Linked DNA regions of Homo sapiens: all the other regions are linked to region 3. Evidence: fine-mapped QTL for protein levels in blood plasma. A gene starts in region 3. Each other region holds a variant in brackets. All regions are shown on one strand. Distances are from middle to middle.

Evidence for each region. A credible set is the group of variants that fine-mapping cannot tell apart. PIP is the posterior inclusion probability: the model's chance that the variant is causal. The UK Biobank Pharma Proteomics Project read protein levels with antibody pairs (Olink). The fine-mapping took linkage between variants from a reference panel, not from the people measured, so its PIPs are less certain.
Region 1: its variant is the best candidate, but not a certain one, in a credible set for the plasma level of the PRELP protein (UK Biobank, PIP 0.72).
Region 2: its variant is the best candidate, but not a certain one, in a credible set for the plasma level of the PRELP protein (UK Biobank, PIP 0.56).

Annotation. Positions count from the first base shown.
Region 1 is chr1:203,459,112-203,461,874 of GRCh38, reverse strand. No RefSeq gene overlaps it. Among named protein-coding and RNA genes, the nearest start is that of PRELP, 15 kb to the left of the region's middle. The variant C/T (reference allele first, on the strand shown) is at 1,380.
Region 2 is chr1:203,413,593-203,416,355 of GRCh38, reverse strand. No RefSeq gene overlaps it. Among named protein-coding and RNA genes, the nearest start is that of BMNCR, 7.3 kb to the right of the region's middle. The variant C/T (reference allele first, on the strand shown) is at 1,348.
Region 3 is chr1:203,474,115-203,476,877 of GRCh38, reverse strand. PRELP (proline and arginine rich end leucine rich repeat protein) reads right to left here and starts at 1,072. Exons shown (of 3, transcript NM_002725.4): 1 at 940-1,072.

The DNA.
Region 1 (2,763 bases), 15 kb after region 3:
CACCACCTAGCCTTTACACTCCCCATCAGGGGTCCACTGCAGGGCCTCTTGCCACTGTATAATTCATTCTGTACCAGAAGCCAGAGTTCTTACTTTTTAAATCAATTTTTAAAAATTATAATTTGCATAGAGTAACAGGTTACAAATAGGTACCCATTTGAAGTATACAGCTTGACAAACTTTGACACATATGTGTATGTATATATACCCATGCAACCACCACCCCAATCAGATGTATTGAAAAATGTTTTAAATTGAGAAAAATTATATATATTTAGGTTATACAACATAATGTGTGTGTATACATAACATACATTATGTTGTATAACCTAAATATATACAGTTACACACATACACATTGTAGAATGGCTAAATTGAGCTAATTAATATATAAATTATCTCATGTACTTCTCATTTTTTGTGGTGAGCATAAAAAAATGTATTCTCTTAGCAATTTTCAGTACACAATATATTCCTGTTAACTACAGTCACCGTCATGTACAATAGATCTCTTAAACTTACTCTTCCTTTCTAACTGAAATTTTGTATCCTTCGACCAACATCTCCCCAACACTTCCACCCCCATCCAGCCCCTGGTCACTGCCATTCTGCTCTCTGCCTCTATGGTTTCAACTTTTTTAGATTCCACATATAAGTGAGGCCATATGGTGTTTGTTTTTATGTGCCTGTCTTGTTTCACTTAACATAATGTCTTCCAGGTTCATCCATGTTCATGCAAATGACAAGGTTTCCTTCTTTAATGCTAAATAATATTCCACTGTGTATGTACAGCACATTTGCTTTATCTGTTCGTCAATCAATAGATACTTAGGTTGATTCCACATTGGTTATTGTGAATAGTGCTGCAGTGTACATGGGAGTGCAGATATCTCTTCGATATACAGTAGCCCCTTCTTATCCAAAGTTCTGCTTTCTGTGGTTTCAGTTACACACCACCACCAATGGCCTGAAAATATTAAATGGAAAATTACAGAAATAGACAATTCTTTTTTTTTTTTTTTGAGATAGAGTCTCCCTCTGTTCCCCAGGCTGGAGTGCAGTGGCTGATCTCGGCTCACTGCAACCTCCGCCTCCTGGGTTTAAGTGATTCTCCTGCCTCAGCCTCCTGTGTAGCTGGGACTACAGGTGCCCACCACCACGCCAGGCTAATTTTTGTATTTTTAGTAGAGACAGGGTTTCACCATATTGGCCAGTCTGGTCTCGAACTCCTGACCTTGTGATCCGCCCGTCTCGGATCCCAAAGTGCTGGGATTACAGGTGTGAGCCACCGCGCCCGGCCGACAATTCATAAGTTTTAAATTGTGTACTGTTCTGAGTAACATGATGAAATCCTGCACTCTCCCGCTTCATCCTGCTGG[C/T]GATATGAATCCGCCCTTTGTCCAGCATACCCACACTGTAGACGTTACTTAGTAGCCATCTCAGTAATGAGATCAACTGTCTCAGTACAGCAGTGCCTGTGTCCAAGTCACCCTCATTTTACTTAATGATGGCCCCAGAGCACAAGAGTAGTGATGGTGACAATTCAAGTATGCCAAAGAGACACCACAGAGTGCTTCCTTGAAGTGAAAAGGTGAACGTTTTCAACTTAGTAAGAAAAGAAAAAATATTGTAGGCTGAAATTACTAAGAGCTATGATAAGAAGGAAGCTTCTATCTATGAAATTGTGAAGAAGGAAAAAGAAATTCATGCTAGTTTTGTTGTCACATCTCAAATCGCAGAAGTGACAGCCACAGTGCATGACAAGTACTTAATTAAGTACTTGTATCCCCATGGATAAGCGGGGGCCACTACACTGATTTCCTTTCCTATGGATATATATCAGTAGTGGATTGCTGGGTCACGTGGTTGTTCCATTTTTAAGTTTTTCTGAGGAATCTCCATGCTGCTTTCTGTAACGGTTGTACTAATTTACATTCCTAAGGGTTCCTTTTTTTCCACATCCTCACCAACTTTGGTTATCTCGTGTCTTTGTGTGTGTGTGTGTGTGTGTGTGTGTGTGTGTCTGTGTTTGATAACAGCCATTCTAATAGGTGTGAGGTGATATCTCCTTGTGGTTTTACTTTGCATTTCCCCGATGATTAGTGATGCTAAGCATTTTTTAAATATGCCGGTCAAATGTAAAATATATTCATCACCATGAAAAATTTCATGTCATGTCACTTGCGCCAACCCAAAACCTTTCAGTGGGATTCCCTAATTTCTAGTAATAGTGGATAAGGTTATTTGGACCAAGCCTACCACTGAAAACAAGTAAAACTGACAGATAAATTTTTTAAAAAATTTTTTGTTTAGAAACAAGAGCTAATAAGACTTAGCAAGAGAGAAACAACCAACCAGACAAAATTAAAGGGAAAAAAATGGAAACCTCAGAGATGGAAACTAAAGGTTTGCCCCGAGGGTATTTGCTGATCCCAGTAAATCTCAACTATTGTTTTGATGTCTACAAGGGAAAGAAGATAGAAATCAATGCTCAAGCTGGGCTGGCGTGGTGGTTCTCGCCTGTAATCCTGGCACTTTGGAAGGCCGAAGTGGGCAGATCACTTGAGTTCAGGAGTTCAAGACCAGCCCAGCCAACGTGGTAAAACCCCATCTCTACTAAAAATAAAATTAGTCAGGTGTGGTGGCAGGTGCCTGTAATCCCAGCTATTCAGGAGGCTGAGGTGGGAGGAGCGCTTGAATCCAGGGGGTGGAGGCTGCAGTGAGCTGAGACTGCGCCATTGCACTCCAGCTGGGCAACAGAGC
Region 2 (2,763 bases), 61 kb after region 3:
AATTCACTCATTCGGCTCTCTGTTGGTCTGTTATTGGTGTATAGGAATGCTTGTGATTTTTGCACATTGATTTTGTATCCTGAGACTTCGCTGAAGTTGCTTATCAGCTTGAGGAGATTTTGGGCTGAGACAATGGGATTCTCTAAATATACAATCATGTCATCTGCAAACAGGGACAATTTGACTTCTTCTTTTCCTAATTGAATACACGTTATTTCTTTCTCCTGCCTGATTGCCCTGGCCAGAACTTCCAACACTATGTTGAATAGGAATGGTGAGAGAGGGCATCCCTGTCTTGTGCCAGTTTTCAAAGGGAATGCTTCCAGTTTTTGCCCATTCAGTATGATATTGGCTGTGGGTTTGTCATAAATAGCTCTTATTATTTTGAGGTATGTCCCATCAATACCTATTTTATTGAGAGTTTGTAGCATGAAGGGCTGTTGAATTTTGTCAAAGGCCTTTTCTGCATCTATTGAGATAATCATGTGGTTTTTGTCTTTGGTTCTGTTTATATGATGGATTGCATTTATTGATTTGCATATGTTGAACCAGCCTTGCATCCCAGGGATGAAGCCAACTTGATCGTGGTGGATAAGCTTTTTGATGTGCTCCTGGATTTGGTTTACCAGTATTTTACTGAGGATTTTTGCATCGATGTTCATCAGGGATATTGGTATAAAATTCTCTTTTTCTGTTGTGTCTCCGCCAGGCTTTGGTATCAGGATGAAGCTGGCCTCATAAAATGAGTTAGGGAGGATTCCTTCTTTTTCTATTGATTGGAATAGCTTCAGAAGGAATGGTACCAGCTCCTCTTTGTACCTCTGGTAGAATTCGGCTGTGAATCGGTCTGGTCCTGGACTTTTTTTGGTCGATAGGCTATTAATTATTGCCTCAATTTCAGAGCCTGTTATTGGTCTATTCAGGGATTCAGCTTCTTCCTGGTTTAGTCTTGGGAGGGTGTGTGTGTCCAGGAATTCACCCATTTCTTCTAGATTTTCTAGTTTATTTGCGTAGAGGTGTTTATAGTATTCTCTGATGGTAGTTTATATTTCTGTGGGATCGGTGGTGATATCCCCTTTATCATTTTTTATTGTATCTGTTTGATTCCTCTCTCTTTTCTTCTTTATTAGTCTTGCTAGCAGTCTATCAATTTTGTTGATCTTTTCAAAAAACCAGCTCCTGGATTCATTGAATTTTTGAAGGGTTTTTTGTGTCTCTGTCTCCTTCAGTTCTGCTCTGATCTTAGTTATTTCTTGCCTTCTGCTAGCTTTTGAATGTGTTTGCTCTTGCTTCTCTAGTTCTTTTAATTGTGATGTTAGAGGGTAAATTTTAGATCTTTCCTGCTTT[C/T]TCTTGTGGGCATTTAGTGCTATAAATTTCTGCTAAGACCAGCTCGGTCGGGGAAACCCTAACCCAGCGATGCTAGAGGAATTAAAGACACACACACAGAAATATAGAGGTGTGAAGTGGGAAATCAGGGGTCTCACAGCCTTCAGAGCTGAGAGCCCCAAACAGAGATTTATCCACGTATTTATTAACAGCAAGCCAGTCATTAGCATTGTTTCTATAGATATTTGATTAACTAAAAGTATTCCTTATGGGAAATGAAGGGATGGGCCAAAATAAAGGGATGGGTCTGGCTAGTTATCTGCAGCAGGATCATGTCCTTAAGGCACAGATTGTTCATGCTATTGTTTGTGGTTTAAGAATGCCTTTAAGGGGTTTCCTGCCCTGGGTGGGCCAGGTGTTGCTTACCCTCATTCCGGTAAACCCACAACCTTCCAGCGTGGGCATCATGGCCTTCATGAACATGTCACAGTGCTGCAGAGATTTTGTTTATGGCTAGTTTTGGGGCCAGTTTATGGCCAAATTTTGGGGGGCCTGTTCCCAACAATTTCCCTCTACACATTGTTTTAAATGTGTCCCAGAGATTCTGGTATGATGTGTCTTTGTTCTTGTTGGTTTCAAAGAACATCTTTATTTCTGCCTTCGTTTTGTTATGTACCCAGTAGTCATTCAGGAGCCGGTTGTTCAGTTTCCATGTAGTTGAGCAGTTTTGAGTGAGTTTCTTAATCCTGAGTTCTAGTTTGATTGCACTGTGGTCTGAGAGACAGTTTATTATAATTTCTGTTCTTTTACATTTGCTGATGAGTACTTTACTTCCAACTATGTGGTCAGTTTTGGAATAAGTGCGATATGGTGCTGAGAAGAATGTATATTCTGTTGATTTGGGGTGGAGAGTTCTGTAGATGTCTATTAGGTCCACTTGGTGAAGAGCTGAGTTCAATTCCTGGATATCCTTGTTAACTTTCTGTCTCGTTGATCTGTCTAATGTTGACAGTGGGGTGTTAAAGTCTCCCATTATTATTGTGTGGGAGTCTAAGTCTCTTTGTAGGTCTCTAAGGACTTCCTTTATGAATCTGGGTGCTCCTGCATTGGGTACATATATATTTAGGATAGTTAGCTCTTCTTGTTGAATTGATCCCTTTATCATTATGCAATGGCCTTCTTTGTCTCTTTTGATCTTTGTTGGTTTAAAGTCTGTTTTATCAGAGACTAGGATTGCAACCCCTGCTTTTTTTTTGTTTTCCATTTCCTTGGTAGATATTCCTCCATCCCTTTATTTTGAGCCTATGTGTGTCTCTGCACGTGAGATGGGTCTCCTGAATACAGCAGACTGTTGGGTCTTGACTCTTTATCCAATTTCCCAGTCTGTGTCTTTTAATTGGAGCATTTAGCCCAGTTACATTTAAGGTTAATATTGTT
Region 3 (2,763 bases):
GAAAAATATTTTTCTGGCTGCCTGCAGGAAAAAAAAATAAAAAAATGAACTGTCCCCAGAGCTGGGAATTAGGACCTTCAAGGATTGGGAACTGGGTCGCTTTCTTCTTTCTTTCCAAAAGCCAAGTGGTTTGGACCAGTGAGACAGAAATTGAAAGCTGCTGAGAAGACACTGTGCAGGTTGGAAAAAGCCGTTTTTCTCTCCCTCCTACCCAGTGAAGCCCTAAATAATGAAGAAACCCTTCCAGCTCCCGCTCTTGCTTATCTCCTCCCTATTCGGCCTGGACTTGGGATGCAAGATTTTCTTCTGGCTCTGCCATCTCAGTGGGAAAACGTACTTTATCTTTGCTCTTACAGCTAGGGAGGTGTGTGTGAGAGGGCGAGAGACAAGATGCAGGGAACATGTGTGCATGCATGTGTGTGTGTGTCTGCTGGTGTCTGGTGATGATGTGGTCTAGCTCTGCATGTCAGATGCAGAGGGCAGAGGTGAATGGACAGGATGTCTTCATTTTGTATGGTCGTGTGGGGTGATGGTAGTGAACGTGCAGCCTCCGTGTGATGTGTGTGACTTCCACAATGTGTGACAATACACAAAAGGTGCAAAGAAATGGGTTCTGGAGTCCAGTTTCTATGGAAACACCTGATCTGTAGAAACACTTTGTGCAGCGTGGCTCTCTGTGCTACAACAAACATCTGCAGCAGGAAAGCTTAACTTTTGCAGTAAGCAAATATAGGGGTACAGAGTGATGAAAAGAAAAGGAAGAGGCTATAGGAAAGAAGTTAGGAAGACTAAATTTGAACTCATTTGAGAGGAGAAAGAGGTGGGAGGAAGGAAGGAGTGAGAGGATAGAGACTAGATCAATAAATGGACAGAGCTGGAGGAAACTTACTGGATGAAAGATTCTTCCCAGTCTCCTGCCCATCTCCCAACTGGGCTTACCTGCACACACCTGCCTCTCCTCTCAGCTCTGAGTTTAGTCCTCCTCTTCCACCCCCTCCCTTCGGCGGAGCTGTGGCAGCAGAGAGCCAGCTAGAAGATCTGATCTCCCAGTGGTGTGTGCGTGCTTGTGTTTGCCTGACTTTTCTTCCACCAGATCCTATTGGGGTGGGGAGGTTAGCTTGGGGGGAGGGAGGGGCAGATCATAGGGAGGGAGGGGAGGAGAGGAGGGAGGAGGGAGGGAGGGGAGGGGAGGAGAGAGGGAGGGAGCTTGGGAAAGGAGGAATGACAATAAAGTCTTTATTTGGCAGCCAAAACTCCCAAAGACTTCATCCACACACCATTCCCACTAACAGACTCATTTTTAATAACATTTCCTTCTGCTGCTGCCGCTTCTGGAGAGGGGTTGTTTGACCCATGTTTGGAAAACAAGCCAAATTAACAGAGTGAAAAGGCATGAAAAGCAACCTCTGTGTAAGCCAGGACTGGATGGCTGGGTCCAGCACTAGCCTGTTTAATTCCTCCTAACAATCGCCTTGCCTTCTGGGGCCGTTGCTCGGTAGTGTTAAATTCCTAAACCAGTGAGGGGTTTGGGATGCTTCCTCTGAGCAGTGACAGTCTTTCCCTAAGTTATCTTCTCCAGGAGGTTGCAAAGGGAGTGGAGTCTCAGGCTGGCATAGGAGATAACTTCGGTTTGGCTGCCAGGGCTGTTCTGAGAACCAGAGAGGGAGAAGTCTGGCCTGAGTTGCACAGCAAAGTTAAGGCAGAATTAAGATTTAATGTAAGACCTAAAGTCACTGTTCCTAGCTCATGTGGACAATGTAGTGGCTTCTTTCAGCTTCTCCATATCACACTTAGGTGAGATTTAGGGGCTGTGTGGTCATCACACAAAGTGATGGGAAATCCAAATTTCCCCTGTGCACATCAACACCCCAGAAGACCCAGTCAAGTAACACCACTACCTCTAACAATCCTCTAACAATGCCCCTCAATTAAGAAAGCACAACACACTTGCAGGTAAGTAGATGCCCATCAAAATTTCCTGCCATGGCCAGGCACAGTGGCTCACGCCTGTAATCCCAGTACTGTGGGAGGCAGAGGCAGGCGGATCACCTGAGGTCAGGAGTTTGAGGCCAACCTGGCCAACATGGTGAAACCCTGTCTGTACTAAAAATACAAAAAAATTAGCTGGGTGTGGTGGCGGGCATCTGTAGTCCCAGCTACTAGGGAGGCTGAGGCAGGAGAATTGCTTGAACCTGGGAGGCAAAGCTTGCAGTGAGCCAAGATCGTGCCACTGCACTCCAGCCTGGGCAACAAGAGCGTGACTCTGTCTCAAAAAATAAATAAGTAAATAAAATAAATAAATTCCTGCCATCCCAGCTGACTACTTAGAAAATGCAACGCAATTTTCTTCTCCATTATTGGTTCCATGGAGAGCTGCAGAGCCCCATGACAGGGGACTGCCTGCCTGCCCTCCGCAATATGGGGTAGAGGAGAGAACATTAAAATTAGGGTCTGCAGCCCTGGGCTCAGCCACCCACAAGCTATGGTCTTAGGTGAATCACTTGATCATGAGGACCTTCAGTTTCCTCATTTACAAAATATGGATAATATTGACCTCACAGGGTTGGGAAGATTAAATATTGTAAATGTGAGAGCACTTTATAAACTGGGAAGATATTAGGGTTTAGGAAAGGGATTGCGATGAATGGTAATTAGCCTAAGAAAAGGAGAAGGAAAAATAAAACCCAGACCTTTCTCCAACCCCCTTCCACCCCAGATCTCATGGCTTCACGCCCTGCTGGTGAGGTCTTGCTGGAAGACAGC